Regions from separate parts of the Homo sapiens genome. Here region 1 is linked to region 2. A link means that fine-mapping ties the variant in region 2 to the expression of a gene that starts in the linked region. Tissue or cell type: whole blood. Region 2 holds a variant in brackets; the other region holds the start of a gene. All regions are shown on one strand. Distances are between the middles of the regions.

What was found. PIP is the estimated chance that this variant, and not a neighbour inherited with it, causes the effect.
Region 1: it holds the start of MORN1, and the variant in region 2 is fine-mapped to the expression of MORN1 in whole blood (TOPMed, PIP above 0.99). The same link has a PIP of 0.9 or more in pancreas and tibial nerve.

Annotation. Positions count from the first base shown.
Region 1 is chr1:2,387,490-2,395,662 of GRCh38, reverse strand. It overlaps MORN1 (MORN repeat containing 1), which reads left to right and starts at 4,109. Exons shown (of 14, transcript NM_024848.3): 1 at 4,109-4,205; 2 at 5,667-5,738; 3 at 7,326-7,424; 4 at 8,134-8,173. The coding sequence starts at 4,130. RER1 (retention in endoplasmic reticulum sorting receptor 1) reads right to left here and starts at 3,822. Exons shown (of 7, transcript NM_007033.5): 1 at 3,705-3,822. RefSeq lists silencers at 3,537-3,836, 3,937-4,046, 4,177-4,246, 4,407-4,536, 6,863-7,032 and enhancers at 3,078-3,950, 3,819-4,113, 7,093-7,212, 7,323-7,492, 7,553-7,602.
Region 2 is chr1:2,360,274-2,370,450 of GRCh38, reverse strand. The region is part of intron 8 of MORN1 (MORN repeat containing 1); the gene reads left to right. Among named protein-coding and RNA genes, the nearest start is that of MORN1, 26 kb to the left of the region's middle. The variant T/G (reference allele first, on the strand shown) is at 6,112.

The sequences.
Region 1 (8,173 bases), 26 kb before region 2:
ATTTGTGTTTTTACCATGAATTGTTCGGGAAAAAGTAGCAGGTACACAGGCTTCCCTGGAGAGGAAGGGCAGCGTGAGACGCATGGGCCCAGGAGCACAGGCCGCATTTTCATTCCCACACTGGCACCTCAGTCACCTGCGTGGGCGGGACTGTCCACCCCACTGGCCCCAGGAGCAGCCTTGCTGGCCATGGGGTCCACTGGCTGGTCCATGGCACGTGGCACTGCATGTCCTCCCTCCAAGGACCGCACCCTCTGTGGATCCCTCAGGGTTCCCCCGCCCAGGCACCTTGTCTGCTCCACGCCCTGTCCTGGGTCTCTGGTCTGGCAGGAGCAGGAGGGATCCTGTCCTCTCAGGGCCAGGTCCTCCACCCCATGAACAGGAAAATGTTATCTACAACTCTCAGGTAGTCCATCCATCTGCGTCCCAGTTTCTTATCTGGCAAGCGGAGGTAACGTATCTGCTCCTATTTCAACACTGCTGTGATGCCATGAGGAATTCACCTGAGAACCCAGGTGCCAGAGGTCACATTGTTCACCCACTTAATTCCCAGATGCTCAAGTGAAGGGCATCATGACCCCCATTTCACCAAGTCTCAAACAGTGGAAGCCACGTGTCCAAGGTCCTGCCACAGCCCTGCTTCTGGGCAGGCCAAGCCAAGCCTGACTGCCACCTGGCTCCTCAGCTGAGCACGCCGCCACCCCACTCCTGAGAGGAGACGGCGTCAGGACCTGCCGCTCTTCGGTAAAGCACAGCTCAGTACCCAGGGCCTGCCGGTTGTCATTCCTACTTTAAAGATGAGAGGCCTCCTGGCCCCTGAGCTAGAGAAGACGCCAGGGGTGACGTTCACCTCCCCCACCACCCCCCATCTGCTCCCTCGGCAGGGCAGTGAGGAGAAACAGACTCTGGTCTCAAGTTTGGCTTAAAGTCCCACCTGTGCTAAGCGGCTGTGAGGCCTTCAGCAAACCCTCTGAGCACGCAGCCAGCCTCAGTTTCCTCATCTGTAAAATGAGGCTCTAAGAAATACCAGACATGAAAGCAAAGACATCATTCCTCAGCAACAGTTGGGGTCAGTCTTATTGTTCTCATTTACAGATAAGAAAACTGAAGCTCACAAAGACTAAAGAGTTGCCCTGGCCCATCAGCATGTTCGCAGTGGGCAGGAGCCAGAACCTGCACCTTCCTGAAACCAACGCTTTTCCAGTCCCATCCTCACTGTGAGCACTGGGGAAATCTTCCCTTCAGGTGGAAGGCAACAGGTGGCCAGACGCAATCCCGCCCTCAAGTGCCTTGGCTCTCCCATCACAACTGATGCGCTGAAGTGATCCAGGCAGCTCCCTCCACATCATCAAGTCTGTGCAGAATGTGGCTCCATGACACCGTTCCTGGATCCTCTGTGCAGAGTGCCAGGCTGCTCAAGGAGACCGAGGGGCCCTTTGGTCTCGCGGAGCCGTGTAAACCAGACACAGAGGAGGAGCACCTTTACTCTCCACTGAAAGAACTCCATATTTAAATAGAGGCTACACTAAAATGTGTCACCTGGAATGGCCACCCTATTTAGGCCAAAGCCAGGCCATCTGAAAGCCACCCGTCACATTGTTCGTCCTATAGCTCCTTGTAAGTTTCCCCGTTTTACTCAGACTGTTTCCCATTAAAGCACTTTTACTGGACTGGAGGTGATGAGAGTAATGTCAGGGAGAAAATACCCAGCTCTCCCGCCAAAGGGTGTTCTCTAGGCAAAGCTCAGAACTTCTCACTCTCCAACTGAACATGTAGAAAACCTACTCAAAACGCCATCAGCCAATCCTGCTTGTCTGACACACACAACACGTATACCAAACACACACGTATACCAAACACAGCTTGCACCCTGACTGAACGCATTGCCAGGAATAGCCTGAGGCAGGGCGGCAGGAGCAAGAACGTGAACTTTGGACTCCAACAGCCTGCTTTCAGATCCTGGCTCTACCACTCTCTGCCAGTGTGACTAGGACAGGCTATTCCAGGATGCCTCAGGTTCCAGTCTGTGAAATGGGACAACAGCACCTCTCATGCCTTCTCCACAAGGCTCTCGTGAGGAATCAGTGGGCAGCCCGTGGAGCACCCTTGGAGCCGGGCAAGGCAGTGCCAGCCCTGTTCCTGGATCAGGGCCAGCCCTCACACCAGCTGCCCCCTCTGCAGTCCTCTTCTCTGCTCAGTTTGAAGCCCACCTCCTCTTCACAGGCCTCCGTTACCGCCCACACTGACCCCCAGTCCCTTACATCACATCACCCTATTTTTATTTTGTGTACAACTGTTTCCTGATACCTTTCTGGTTTACTTCTCAATTTTCTCCTGCTAGAATGAAGCTCCTTGAGGGGTCCCTTGTCTGGTTCGGGGCTGGGCCCTGCCACCTGGAAGTCCATTACATAGTAGACAGCCCATCAATTACCTGTTGAAGGTGACTGCTTTATGCCTGGTCACAAACAAAACAGAAAGGGAGATAAAACCAGTCCAAGCAGAGACCATGAGGACGTGCCAGAAAGTGTAAGACTCTCTATGTGCCTTGTTCCAGGCCCGTCACATTCATCCACATCTGTGGTCCATCACTCTGCACGTGGAAAGGATGAAGTCCTCTGCCTGGCGTCCGGGAGCATTGACAGTCTGGCTCCCACCTTTCTCTTCACGTCCCCATCCCCAATTCCTCCGGGACTAAGAAAGCCCCCGGCTGCCGTGCACCAAGCTTCACGCCTCTGGTGTTGTTCAGTCCTCTGAAATGCCCTCCCAGACCCCGTCTCTTCCTCCTTCCCAAGGCCACATTCCAGCCTGGGCTCCCCGCTCCTCTGGGCCTGACCATCTTATATCTCCACCTGGCTCTGACACACTGTTACCGCCGTCGCCGTCACCTCAGGCATACGGCAGAAGCCATGTGAGAGTCTGAATTACTGAGAACCCTTTATCCACTTACGGGGATAACTGCATCTTCCTGGGAAATGTCAACTCAACTAAAAATAAAGTGCTTCCAGGACTAGCGGCCAGTCTCTACTCTTCATAAAGGGAAAAGGGCAAAAGCCCACTGAAGGTACTTAGGCTGAAAGCAGCCCTCTGTGCTGTGAGACACCTGGCAGAGAAACGAACGATACCTTTATCAGTGGGGCCACAGACCAGTACTAAGTCAGCCTGGAGAATTTATGATTTTATTGCCTATTTAGAATACGATCAAAACCGATGTAACTAGTTTCCCTTCAGCCCGTCAGTAACGCCTTCACCCCAGAGCTTAACACTAAATCCTACAGATAAGCGCTGACCTGGACGCAGGATGGGGACAGGGCACATTACTCTGGAATACAGCCCAACTCGCAGCGCTGTGGGGGCCGCGACTGCCCGCTTCCCCCAGATGCCAAGCAGGGGATGCGGACGAGATGCGGCCCGGGTGGCTCGAGGGCTGCAGCCCCCGCCCGGCCCCTCTCCCGCTCCCCCGACCCTCGCAGGCCCCAGGGCTCCGCCGCACCCCCCAGCACCCCGTCCCGGGCCCGACCCCGAGGCGCGACCCGTACCCCTCAGGGCCGCGGGTCGGGAACACGGTCCCCGCGGCCACCCGGGCCCCGACGGCCCTCCCCGCCCGGCCCTCAGCGCGGCCCCGCCCGCCCGCGGCCTTGACAGCCCGGAAGAAGCGGAGGCGGCGCTGCCCGGCCGTTCCCGCGCCACGCAGCCCTTCCTGGCACCTCGCAGCTCCGCTACGGCCGAGCCGCGGTCTCCCTCACGGCCGCGGGAAGGAGGACGGCGGGGCACGGGCGGCCGCAGGCGCTGCGCTCCGGCTCCGGGAAGCTGCAGCGAGCACTTCCGCTCCGTCCTCCGCGGCGCCGCCTCCAGGGCCCCCAAGATGGCGCGAGGGCGGGGCCAAGGGCTCCAACCATTTCCGCTTCCGGCGCAGACGCGCAGGCCGTTGGCGGGCGGGCCTCCCGGCGGAAGAGACGACAGCGGCGGAAACGCGCACAGGCGCAGCTGCGTCCTCTGGCTCCGGGCCCGGCTAGCTTCGCTCCAGAGATTGCGCGGGCTCAGGGACTAGGCCCGTGGCCACACCCCCCCTTGCGACAAAGACCAATGGAAGCGGGCGTTGCTGGTCGCTAAGAGAACCCTCGGCGGCAAGATGGCAGCGGCGGGCGAGGGCACCCCGAGCTCCCGCGGGCCGCGTCGGGACCCGCCTAGGCGGCCGCCCCGGAACGGTAACGACTGCGGGCCACGGGACAGGTCGCTGGCTGCCCTGGGCTCCATTCAGGGTGCGATCGCTCTACGCCCTCGACCCCCAAATGCTCACCTCGGAAAGTAGAGGTCCAGGTGCCGCGGCGGAGCCAGGGCCGCCCCCGCGTCCCCCACTCCCACAGGACTCGCCGTGCGCCTCGGGCTCGGCTCGCACCCTTCCCCGAGCCCTCCTCCCGCAGCAGGCCAAGCCCTGCAGGGGGTCGCCCCCCGCGGGCTCCTAGCCGGGAAGACCGGGTTCCGGCCGCAGCCTCACAGCCAGCGGGACCTGGGGTTGCCATGGGGATCCCGAAGCCCAGGACTTGGGGCGAGGGCAGGCGCAGGAGCAGCACCAAGCCTCCTGACTTCCTGGCCGGTGCTGTCCAGAAACGCTAGGACGCGTTTCAAAAGCAGTTTTTGCCTGTACTTCCAGCACTTTGGGAGGCCGAGGCGGGTGGATCACCTGAGGTCAGGAGTTCGAGACCAGTGTGGCCAACATGGCGAAACCCGGTCTCTACTAAAAAATACAAAAATTGGCCCGGGGTGGTGCCTCCTGTAGTTCCAGCTACTCGGGAGGCTGAGGCAGGAGAATCGCTTGAACCCAGGAAGCGGAGGTTGCAGAGAGCCGAGATCGCGCCGCTGCACCCCAGCCTGGGCGACAGAGCAAGACTCAGTCTCAAAAAAAAAAAAAAGAGCAGGTTTTGATAGGAACTGTTTCTAGAATCAAATAAACGGGTCTGGAATGAACTCAGAGCTAACACTACTATCTTCAGGTAGAACCTGACCCTGATTTGGGACAGATACAGTAGCCTGTAGTAACCCCCTGCCCTCCTCCCCGACATTTTCCCATAAACCCTGCCCACAAAATGTGCCTGAGGAGCTGGTAGGGAGGGAGCCCTGCCCATTCCTGGAACTGCAGGAGTTGGCGGGTGGCACACCCAGCAACTAGGAGGAGATGAAGCCGGCCAGGCCATCCTTGGGTATGAGTGTGGATTTTCTCCCCAGCGATAGGAGGCCACTGAAGGGCCACGGCAGGGGATGGGAGAGTCTGCTCCTCCCCTGTGTGCCTCACTGACACTGCCGCTCTGCCTTCCCCTGGCTCACTCATCTCCTGCAACAAGGCTCCCAACCTGCTCCTCACCACCTCCCGAGCACCTCTGGTCTCTCAAGGACCTGCAGTTGTTTCAAGCCAGCCCTCCTCTTACTGGGCCTGTCTTCTCTGCACCAAGTAGGTCCTCATCCTTGTCACATAAACAAATGAGCAAATGAATGGCCCAACAGTCGACAGGAGAGCTCATGAGCCCCACAGGTCGCCTCTGGTCTGCTGAAGGTGACGTGTACCAACCCCTTGAAGGCCCTCAAGGGAGCTGCACTCCCTCCTTCAGCACTGGAGAGCATCCCTCATCTCTGTGTCTGTGCTTACCTGTGTGTGTCTTCTCAATACTCAGGTTATGGTGTCTACGTATACCCAAATTCCTTCTTTCGATATGAAGGAGAATGGAAAGCAGGGAGGAAGCACGGTGAGAAGCATCTGTGGTCTCTTCTTGCAGCTGCTGCCCCACAGCTGACGAAACCAGTTTCTCCCCGGGAGGTTGGGTGGGCAAGTGGCATTTCCTGTAGCTTTCGAGCCCATTGTACCCTGGTGCTTCCCTGGCTGCTCAGGGTAAGGCTGGATGGGCAGGGGAAACAGAGGCCTGGGAGACCCCCCTGGAGGGCCACCTTTAGCAAAGGAAGCTGCGACTTTGAAATTCTCCCTAGAGGTTGAGTTCATTTGTCTTTTCCAGACTGAAAACTGGCTTTATGGTTTATTTCCTATTATAAAGAGAACCTACTCTTGTAGTAAATCCAAGTAATAGAAGAAAGAAAGTGTAAAGTCAAGCCAAGCGCAGTGGCTCACGCCTGTAATCCCAGTACTTTGGGAGGCCAAGGTGGGCGGATCACTTGAGGTCAGGAGTTCCAGAACAGCCTGACCAGCATGCTGAAACCCTGACCCTACTAAAAAGACAATAATAGCTGGTTGTGGTAAGGCACACCTGTAATCCTAGCTACTTGGCAGGCTGAGCCAGGAGAATCCCTTGAACACAGGAGGCAGAGGTTGCAGTCAGCTGAGATTGTGCCACTGCACTCCAGCCTGGGTGACAGACTGAGACTCCGTCTCAAAACAGAACAAAAAAAGCAAGTATAAAGTCGATAACACCTGTACCCCCACCAACCCCAGGCAAGTGCCGTGAACCTTTGGTGGTGTGGACGTTCCCGCCACTGTACTCCTCTCACGCAGTTTTGTATCTGCTCTCTGCCAGTTTTGTTTCTTTTTTCTTTTTTTTTTTTTTTGGAGACAGAGTTTTGCTCTTGTTGCCCAGGCTGGAGTGCAATGCTGCCATCTCGGCTCACTGCAACCTCCGGCTCCCAGGTTCAAGTGATTCTCCTGCCTCAGCCTCATGAGTAGCTGGGATTACAGGCACCTGCCACCACGCCCAGCTAATTTTTGTATTTTTAGTAGAGATGCAGTTTTGCCATGTTGGCCTGGCTGGTCTCGAACTCCTGACCTCAGGTGATCTGCCCACCTCAACCTCCCAAAGTGCTGAGATTACAGGCATGAGCCACTGCGCCCAGCCACTCTGCCTAGTTTTCTTCTCTCTCTCTCTTTTTTTTTTTTTTTTTTTTTTTTTGAGACAGTCTTGCTCTGTCGCCCAGGCTGGAGTGCAGTGATGCAATCATGGCTCTCTGCAGCCTCAACCTCCTGACTCAAGGGATCCTCCCACCTCAGCCTCCTGAGCAGCTGGACCCACAAACACGTACCACCACACCTGGCTAATTTTTAAAATTTTGTGTAGAGACGGGGTCTCTCCGTGTTGCTCAGGCTGGCTGCCTGCACTTCGATTCCTGTGCTTGTTCTGGCTGAAGGCGCCGGCCGCTCAAGCGTGTTTCGGCAGATATTTTTGAGAACATTTTTTTATTTTTAAATACATGTATAGCATGAGTGATGGAGCCAAACACAAGTTTTGAAGCCAAGCTCTTGGTTCTGAGAAACAGGCCCAACACTGCACAGTGTCATTCGCAGTCAACCCAACCACTGTCTGAGTTCACGTGACGATTTCTCCTGCCAGGTCACGGGAAGTTGTTATTTAAAGATGGCAGTTATTACGAAGGGGCGTTTGTGGACGGAGAGATCACGGGAGAAGGCCGCCGGCACTGGGCCTGGTCAGGTGAGCTCTAGCTGGGATGGCACATTCACTCCTTTCTCATAACCCATCGGGCTCAGTTGGTCCGCCGAGTCTAGATGCAGAAGGCGTGACGTGTAGACGGGAAGCTTTGTGCCGTGAGAGGCCTGGCCTACCGAGAAGCCCTGGGGACCTGACTGAGGCTCTGTGGTCACCGCTGAGAGCAACTCAGGCTTCCGGAGACACTTTTCTAGAATAAAGATTTATCTGTCCCAAGTTACACTATTTCTTTTTTATTTAAAGCTATTTCAGCCACATTGTATCCCTAGATGGGAAACCAGCTCTGGGGATTCGTTGCCGGGAGCTGTGTGTCCAGGAACCTCAGACCCTCACGCCAGAGGGGTCGGTGGGTTCTCAGTGGAGGTGTTTTCTCTCAGGCTTGGCTTTCAGTTTTTAAAGAGCCAGGGAAAAACCTCACCCTTCACCCTGCAAACCGACCAGAGGGTCCTTTGCCCTCGGGATAGATGCCCAAAGAGAGTGTCTGCCTGGGGCTGTCTGCATGCCCAGCTGTTGGGGAGACCAGACCTGCTTACCATGTTTTCCCTCATGAAGCAGACTGAGTAGTATGATGGAGGCAGGGACGTCCATTCTGGAATGGTTCCTGCGTGTCATGGGCCAGGGACAGAGGAGAGCCGACTGGGGCCGCAGCCCTGAACTGAACCTCCTGTCTCCCCTCCTCCTTGTCCACATGCAGGAGACACCTTCTCTGGACAGTTTGTTCTGGGAGAGCCTCA
Region 2 (10,177 bases):
ACCGTATTTAAGAATTCTTTGCCTAACCCAAGTTTCACAAAGATTTTCTCGTATCCCTCCAGAACTCTTATAGTTCTAGCTCTTACATTTAGGCCTGGGATCCAGTGTGAGTTATTTTTTATGGAAAAGATAAAGTTCTAAATTCATCTTTTCTTCATGGGGATGTTCAATCATCCCAGCATCATTTGTTGAGAACACCGTCCTTTTGCCGTTGAGTTGCCCTGGCACCTTGGTTGAAAATCAGTCAGCCCTAAGAGTCAGGGTTGATGCCTGGACCCCCCGTCTGCTCCACTGATCTGTCTATCCTGATTTATCCTCAGTCTATGCCAGGGCCACGCTATCTGGATTCTTGTTGCTTTTAGCACGTTTTCCAATTGGAGAGTCCTCCAGTTTTGTTTTTCCTTTTCAAAATGATCTTGACTCTGCTGGGACCTTTACATTTCTGTATAAAATTTTAAGATCAGTTTGCCAACTTCTGCAACAACAACAAAAGAAGGCTGCTGGAATGTTGATGGAGGTGCGTTGAACCCCTCTGGAGAGAATGTCCAGATGAAATCTTACCAACACTGAGGCCTCCATCTCATGAACACAGAAGCATCTCTCCATTTAGGTAGAGTTCTTACTTTATCACCAGCGTCTTGTTCCTTTCAGCACACATCTTGCACTTCTTTGTGAAAGCTATTAATACATAATAATGTTATTTATTAGATATTGAATTATAATTATTTTATTAATTATTTCTAAATGCTGATAAATTTGTTTATTCTTTTTATGCCATCATGAGTAGAATTTTCTTAACTTCATTTCAGAGGTTGCCGTAGACTACAATTGATTTTTACATATTGACCTCATTTCCTTTGACTTGCTTTACTCATTTATTAGTTCTACTAGTTTCTTAGAGGATTCCTTAAGATTTTCTCTATATACGATCATATTGTTTATAAATAAATACAGTTTTACTTCTTCCTTTTCAGTCTGAACATGAAAAGCTGCAAGGTTTTTACATTACCTCCAGCAATGAAAGAGGGTTCCAATGGCTTTACACCCTCCTCAGTACTTGCTATTGTCTGTCTTCTTTTTTTTTTTTTTTTTTTTCTGAGACTGAGTTTTGCTCTGTCATCCAGGCTAGAGTGCAGTGGCTCAATCTCGGCTCACTGCAAGCTCCACCTCCTGGGTTCACACCATTCTCCTGCCTCAGCCTCCTGAGTAGCTGAGACTACAGGCGCCTGCCACCATGCCCGGCTAATTTTTTTGTATTTTTTTAGTACAGACAGGGTTTCACCCTGCTAGCCAGGATGATCTCAATCTCCTGACTTCTTGATCCACCACCCTCGGCCTCCCAAAGTGCTGGGATTACAGGCATCAGCCACTGCCCCCCGCCTTTTTTTTTTTTTGAGACTGGGTCTTGCTTTATTGTCCAGGCTGGAGTGCAGTGGTGCAATCTCAGCTCACTGCAACCTCTGCTTCCCGGGCTCAAGCGATTCTCCTGCCTCAGCCTCCCAAGTAGCTGGCACTACAGGCACCCACCACCACGCCCAGCTAATTTTTGTATTTTTAGTAGAGACAGGGTTTCACCATGTTGGCCAGAATGGTCTCCATCTTCTGACCTTGTGATCCACCCGCCTCAGCCTCCCAAAGTGCTGGGATTACAAGCATGAGCCACCGTGCTGGCCTGTCTGTCTTTTGGATGTAGCCATCTTTGTGGGTGTGAAGTGGTGCCTTCTTGTGGTTTGGATTTACATTTCCCTAAAGGCTAATGATGTTGAGCATCTTTTTGTGTGCTATGGGCCATTTGTAGATCTTAGTTGGAGAAATGGAGATAAGAGGCAGAACTTGACTCCAGAAGTGGGGCTCAGACACAAGACCAAATTGAGGACTAGATAAAACAGGGTCAGGGAGGAAGCAGCCTTCCATAAGACACGCCCACCAACGCATCATGCCAGTTTACCATCACCATGGCAACACCTGGGAGTTACCACCCCTTTCCATGGCAATGGCCTGATGACCCAAAAGTTACTGCCGCTTCCCTAGAAATGTCCACATAAACCACCCCTTGATCTGCACGCAGTTAAAAGTGGGTATAAATATGACTGCGACACTGCCCTGAGCTGCTGCTTTCTGCCTGGGGGGCAGCCCCGCTCTGCAGGAGCTGTAGCCCTGCCGCTTCCATACCTCCCATTCACCCTTAAATCCTTCCCTGGCCAAAGCCAAGAACCCTCACAGGCTAAGCCCTGCTGTAGAGCTCACCTGCTCTGCATCAAGATGTCGTAAGAGTTCTTGACATATTCTAGACACAAGCCCCTTATCAGATATCTAATTTGCAAATACATTTTTCCATTTTGTGGGCAGTCAGACAGTTTCTTGCTGGTGTCCTTTGAAACACAAAAGTTTTAAGTTTCGATGAAACCCAATTCTCTCTTTTTCTTTTTGTTGCTTTTGATGTCATATCTATGAAGACTTTGCTTAGTCTGGAGTCATGGAGATTTACTCCTGTGTTTTCTTTTAAGAATTTTATATTTTTAGGCCAGGCACGGTGGCTCACGCCTGTAATCCCAGCACTTTGAGAGGCCAAGGCAGGTGGATCACCTGAGGTCAGGAGTTCAAGACCAGCCTGGCCAACGTGGCAAAACCCTGTCACCACTAAAAAATACGAAAACTAGCTGGGCATAGTGGCGGGTGCCTGTAGTCCCAGCTACTTGAGAGGCTGAGGCAGGGAGAATTGCTTGAACCCAGGAGGCAGAGGTTGCAGTGAGCCGAGATCACGCCACTGCACCCCAGAGCAAGACTCCATCTCAAAAAAAAATGACATATTTTTAGCTCTTACATTTAGGACTGTGAACCGTTCGGTATTAATCTTTTTGTTTGGTGTAAGGAAGGGGTCCAACTGCTGTATATTCCTTTGAATGTGGGTATCTATTTGTCTTAAGATCATTTGTTAAAAAGAGTATTCTTTCCCCAATTATCTTTTTGTTTGTTTTTGTAATTTTTTTTTTTGTAGAGACAGAATCTCACTATGTTGCCCAGGCTGGTCTCAAACTCCCAGGCTCAAGCGATCCTCCCACCTCAGTCTCCCAAAATACTGGGATCACAGGCATAAGCCACCAAGCCTGGCCTTTTTTCTTTTTCTTTTTTTTTTTTTTTTTTGATAGAGCAATGAATTATCTTGTCCTTCAGTTTGCTAAAGTTTTTTTGGGAATTTCTGCATCCCTGTTCGTGAAGGATATTGGCATGAAATTTTCTTTTCTTGTAATGTCTTTGTCTAGTTTTGCTATCAAGGTAATGCTGTCCTCATAGAATGAGTGAATTGGGAAAAATTCTCTCTTCAATTTTCGGGAAGAGTTTGTGTGCACTTGAGAAGAATGTGAATTTTGTTGTGTACAATATTTTATAAATCAGGTCAATTTTGTTGATATTATTGTTTTTCTACGTATTTTTCTATGTATTTTTCTATGTGTTTTTCTATGTATTTTTCTATGTATTTTTCTATGTATTTTGTTGATATTATTGATATTCTGTGTATGTATGTATACTATGTCCTTGCTGATTTTCTGTCTGCTTGTTTTATCAGTTATTGAGAGTAGCATATTGAAATATCTGACTATGATAGATTTGCCTTGCTGGGTGCAGTGCCTCATACCTGTCATCCTAGCATTTTGAGAGGCTGAGGCGAGCACATCACTTGAAGTCAGGAGTTTGAGACCAGCCTGGCCAACATGGTGAAGCCCCATCTCTACTAAAATCTCTACTAAAAATACAAAAATTAGCCAGGCATGGTGGTTCACACCTGTAATCCCAGCTACTTGGGAGGCTGAGGCAGGAGAATTGCTTGAACCTGGGAGGCGGAGGTTGCAGTGAGCTGAGATCGCACCACTGTACTACAGCCTGGGTGACAGAGCAAGATCCTGTCTCAAAACAAGCAAACAAACAAAAGATTTGCCTATTTCTGCTTTTATTTTTTTTTTAATTTTATTATTATTATACTTAAAGTTTTAGGTACCTGTGCACAATGTGCAGGTTAGTTACATATGTATACATGTGCCATGTTGGTGTACTGCAACCATTAACTGGTCATTTAGCATTAAGTATATCTCCTAAAGCTATCCCTCCCACCTCCCCCCACCCCACAACAGTCCCCAGAGTGTGATGTTCCCCTTCCTGTGTCCATGTGTTCTCATTGTTCAATTCCCACCTATGAGTGAGAATATGCGGTGTTTGGTTTTTTGTTCTTGCGATAGTTTACTGAGAATGATGATTTCGAATTTCATCCATGTCCCTACAAAGGACACGAACTCATCATTTTTTATGGCTGCATAGTATTCCATGGTGTATATGTGCCACATTTTCTTAATCCAGTCTATCATTGTTGGACATTTGGGTTGGTTCCAAGTCTTTGCTATTGTGAATAGTGCCGCAATAAACATACGTGTGCATGTGTCTTTATAGCAGCATGATTTATAGTCCTTTGGGTATATACCCAGTAATGGGATGGCTGGGTCAAATGGTATTTCTAGTTCTAGATCCCTGAGGAATCGCCACACTGACTTCCACAATGGTTGAACTAGTTTACAGTCCCACCAACAGTGTAAAAGTGTTCCTATTTCTCCACATCCTCTCCAGCACCTGTTGTTTCCTGACTTTTTAATGATTGCCATTCTAACTGGTTTGAGATGGTATCTCATTGTGGTTTTGATTTGCATTTCTCTGATAGCCAGTGATGGTAAGCATTTCTTCATGTGTTTTTTGGCTGCCTATGACAAACCCACAGCCAATATCATACTGAATGGGCAAAAACTGGAAGCATTCCCTTTGAAAACTGGCACAAGACAGGGATGCCCTCTCTCACCACTCCTATTCAACATAGTGTTGGAAGTTCTGGCCAGGGCAATTAGGCAGGAGAAGGAAATAAAGGGTATTCAGTTAGGAAAAGAGGAAGTCAAATTGTCCCTGTTTGCAGATGACATGATTGTATATCTAGAAAACCCCATTGTCTCAGCCCAAAATCTCCTTAAGCTGATAAGCAACTTCAGCAAAGTCTCAGGATACAAAATCAATGTACAAAAATCACAAACATTCTTATACACCAATAACAGACAAACAGCCAAATCATGAGTGAACTCCCATTCACAATTGCTTCAAAGAGAATAAAATACCTAGGAATCCAACTTACAAGGGACGTGAAGGACCTCTTCAAGGAGAACTACAAACCACTGCTCAGTGAAATAAAAGAGGATACAAACAAATGGAAGAACATTCCATGCTCATGGGTAGGAAGAATCAATATCGTGAAAATGGCCATACTGCCCAAGGTAATTTATAGATTCAATGCCATCCCCATCAAGCTACCAATGACTTTCTTCACAGAATTGGAAAAAACTACTTTAAAGTTCATATGGCACCAAAAAAGAGCCTGCATCACCAAGTCAATCCTAAGCCAAAAGAACAAAGCTGGAGGTATCATGCTACCTGACTTCAAACTATACTACAAGGCTACAGTAACCAAAACAGCATGGTACTGGTACCAAAACAGAAATATAGATCAATGGAACAGAGCAGAGCCCTCAGAAATAACGCTGCGTATCTACAACTATCTGATCTTTGACAAACCTGAGAAAAACAAGCAATGGGGAAAGGATTCCCTATTTAATAAATGGTGCTGGGAAAACTGGCTAGCCATATGTAGAAAGCTGAAACTAGATCCCTTCCTTACACCTTATACAAAAATTAATTCAAGATGGATTAAAGATTTAAACGTTAGACCTAAAACCATAAAAACCCTAGAAGAAAACCTAGGCTTTACCATTCAGGACATAGGCATGGGCAAGGACTTCATGTCTAAAACACCGAAAGCAATGGCAACAAAAGCCAAAATTGACAAATGGGATCTAATTAAACTAAAGAGCTTCTGCACAGCAAAAGAGACTACCATCAGAGTGAACAGGCAACCCACAAAATGGGAGAAAATTTTTGCAACCTACTCATCTGACAAAGGGCTAATATCCAGAATCTACAATGAACTCAAATTTACAAGAAAAAAACAACCCCATCAAAAAGTGGGCAAAGGACATGAACAGACACTTCTCAAAAGAAGACATTTATGCACCAAAAAACACA[T/G]GAAAAAATGTTCTGCTTTTCTTTCTTTCAATTTTTGGTTCATGTATTTTGGGGCTCTGTTATTGGGGGCATACACATTTAGGATTTTTATGTAGTTTAATCAGTTGATCCCTTATCACTGTGAAATTACTTTCTTTATCCCTAGTAACTGCCCTTACTCTTACATCTACTTTCTGTGATATTAATATGGTCACTTTTTATTTCTTTTGACTAGCATTAGCATGGTGTAGCTCTATCCATCCTTTTACTTTTAACCTGCCTATGTTTTTAAAGTGTACTTTTTGTAGACAGCATATCGTCGTCTTGCTTTTTATCCAGTCTAACAATCTCTGCCTTTTAACTGAACTGTTTATACCATTCACATTTAATATGGTTATTGACACAGTAGGATTAAATTTACCATTTTACTATTTTTTAATTTGCCCCAGCTGTTTGTTTCCCCTCTATATCTATTTTTATCTTTTTTGAATTGGGCATTTTTTATGATTCCATTTTATCATCTCTGATTTTTTTTATATATATATATATTTTTTTGTTTGTTTGTTTGTTTGTTTTTCTAACTGATTTTTTCTTTTTTGAGACAAGGTCTCACTGTCACCCAGGCTGAAGTACAGTAGTGAAATCATAGCTCACTGCAGCCTTGACCTCCTGGGCTCAAGTAATCCTCCTGCCTCAGCCTCCTGAGTAGCTGGGACTATAGGTGCACACCACCACGCCTGGTTAATTTAAAAAAATTTTTTTTTCTTTTAGAGATGAGGTCTCACTCTGTTGCCCAGGCTGCTCTTAAACTCCTGGTCTCAAGCAATCTGCCCACCTGGGCCTCCCAAAGTGCTGGGATTACAGGTGTGAGCCACCACGCCTGGCCCTCTGTTAATGTATTAATTATAACTCTTTGTTTTGTTATTTGAGGGATTACTTTAGGGTTTTACAACTCGTTAAGTAAAAGGGGATCATCATAAATGTATTGGAGGAGGAAGGGTTGGTCTTGCTGTGTCAGGGGTAGCAGAGGTACATCTTGACTTACCACAGTTTCTTTCTTTCTTTTTTATTTTATTCTTTACTCCTGGCAAGCTGTGACACAGTTATTTTCAAGAGATGTAATATACTACTTCATGCGTAAGAACTGTACAATTATATACCTTTTTTGCCAGTCCCAATTTTATGCAGTTGTTTTCATACATTTTATGTTCATATATGTAATAAAATTAATAATACGTTGTTATTTTTATTTAAATGACCACTTAGGTTTTAATGTGTACTTAATAAACAGTAAGCAGTCTCTTCTGTTGACCCACATTGCTGTGGCTTCTGGTTCTTCTCGCTTCTTCCTGTGGGTCCATATTTCCATCTGCTCTCATTTTCCTCTGCCTGAAGGACTTAATCTTTAACATTTCTTGTAGTACAGGTTTGCTAGTGATGAATTCTTTCCGCTTTTGTATGTCTGGAAACATCTTGATTTTAGTTTCTTTTTTTTTTGAGATGGAGTTCTGCTCTGTCACCCAGGCTGGAGTGCAATGGCGCGATCTCGGCTCACTGCAACCTCTGCCTCCCAGGTTCAAGCAATTCTCCTGCCTCAGCCTCCCAAGTAGCTGGGATTACAGGCGCCCGCCACCACACCCAGCTAATTTTTTTTGTATTTTTAGTAGAGACAGGGTTTGGCCATGTAGGCCAGATTGGTCTCAAACTCCTGACCTCAGGTGTTTTCATTAAATTTGGAAATTTTTCAACCATTATTTCTTCCAGTAATCTTTCTGGCACAGCCTCTCCCATGTGTTACCCATGATTGGGCTACTTGAGGTTGTCCCACTGTTTGCTGGTTCCCTTCCTTTCTTCCTTCTGTTTTTTCTTTTTAACTCTTTTTTTCCCTCGATGGTCCACTTGGGATGGCTTCTATAGCTGTACAGTTGACCCTTGAACAAAAACAGGTTTGAACTGTGGGATCCACTCATACACAGGTTTTCCTCTGCCTTGGCCACCCCAAAAACAGCAAGACCAACCCCTCTTCTTCCTCCTCCTCCTCAGTGTATTCAATGTGAAGACAGCAAGGATGATCTTTGTGATAATCCACTTCCACTTAATGAATAGTAAATATGTTTTTTGTTTTTTATTTTGAGTTGTCTCGCTCTGTCGCCCAGGCTGGAGTGCAGTGGCATGATCAGAGCTCATTGCAACCTCCACCTCCCGGGTTCAAGTGATTCTCCTGCCTCAGCCTCCCGAGTAGCTGGGACTACAGGCACCCGCCACCACGCCCGGCTGATATTTGTATTTTTAGTAGAGACGGGGTTTCACCATATTGGCCAGGGCGGTCTCAAACTCCTGACCTTGTGATCCGCCTGCCTCAGCCTCCCAAGGTGCTGGGATTACAGGCGTGAGCCACTGTGCCCAGACTTGTTTTCTTTTACTATGATTTTCTTAATAACATTTTCTTTTTTCTAGCTTACTTTATTATAAGAATACAGTGTTTAATAGATATAACATACACAATATGTGTTAATCAACAGTTTCTGTTATCAGTAAGGCTTCTGGTCAACAGTGTGCTATTAAAGCTGTGGGGAGTCGGAATTGACATGTGGATGTTCAGCCGCATGGAGGGTCAGCGGCCCTCATCCCCACGTTGGCCAAGGGTCAACTGCATTTCCAGGTTCATAAATCTTTTCTTCTGCGATGTTTAACCTGTTGTGAATCACATCCAGCATATTTTTTATCTCATACATTATAATTTTCATCTCCAGAAGTTTGACTTTGTTCTTTTTTCTTATTTATTTATTTATTTGTTAATTTTTTGAGACAGTCTCACTCTGTCTCCCAGGCTGGAGTGCAGTAGTACAATCTCGGCTCACTGCAACCTCCACCTCCCAGGTTCAAATGATTCTCCTGCCTCAGCCTCCCAAGTAGCTGGGATGACAGACACGTGCCACCACACCCAGCTAATTTTTTGTATTTTTAGTAGAGACGGGGTTTTGACATGTTGGCCAGGCTGGTCTCAAACTCCTGACCTCAGGTGATCTGCCAACCTTGGCCTCCCAAAGTGCTGGGATTACGGGTGTGAGTCACTGCGCCCGGCTCTTTGTTCTTGTTTATATCTTCTGTGTGTCTATTTAACTTTGGAACATGGAATACAGTTATGATCACCATGCTTGAATGTCCTCTACTGCTGATTCTAACATCCGTGTCAGTTTTGGACCGGTTTCAGTAGATGGATTTTTCTCCTTGTTATGGGCCATACTTTCCTGCATTCTTTGCATGCCTCATAATCTTTGATTGGATGCCAGACATTGTAAATTTTACCTTGTTGGGTATTGGATATTTTTGTATTCCTATAAATATTCTTGAGCTTTGTTCTGGGGCACAGTTCAGTGACTTGGAGACAGTTTAATCCTCTTGGGTCTTGCTTTTATGATTTGTTAGACAGGTCTGCTGGAGACCCGTCTGCCTCACACCAATGGTTCCCCATGACTGTGGCAAGACCCTTCTGAAAGCTTGCCCCCGCTTCCTGTGACCTCTGAGTTTTTCCAGCCTGGCTGAGGAGAACAGGCACCATGCCCAGTCCTGTGTGAGGCCCAGGTCCTGGTCCCTCTTAATTCTTCAGACGGTTCTTCCCCAGCCTCGTGGAGTTTTGTCCCAGGTGTGCTGAATGGTGCTCTGCTGAACACTCCAGGGCCTCCTGCGGGCTGCAGGGTCCTCCCTCTACTCAGGGTCCTCCCTCTACTCAGGGTCCTCTCTCTCCTCTTCGCTGCTCTGCCCTTTGAATTTTAAAACTCTGACTGTGTGCCTTGTTCCCCAGATTCTCTGCTCATTTTCCTCAACTGAGGGGTTTGTTGGGCTCTGCCTCAGTTTCCCCTCTCTGCAGCTCATCCTGCACGTTCTTTTAAGGCAGCAGCCAGGGCAATTATAGAGTCCACGCCGTTTGTTTCCTTCTTTCAAGGATCTGTCCTGAGTTGCCTGGTGTCCGGGATCCTGATATCAATTTCATTGCACTTTGTCGGCTTTCTTGGTTGTTGGAACCAGGGGTGTCAATCGATCCCAGTTACTCCATCCCCATACAGATGTCCAGCAGGCTACGCTA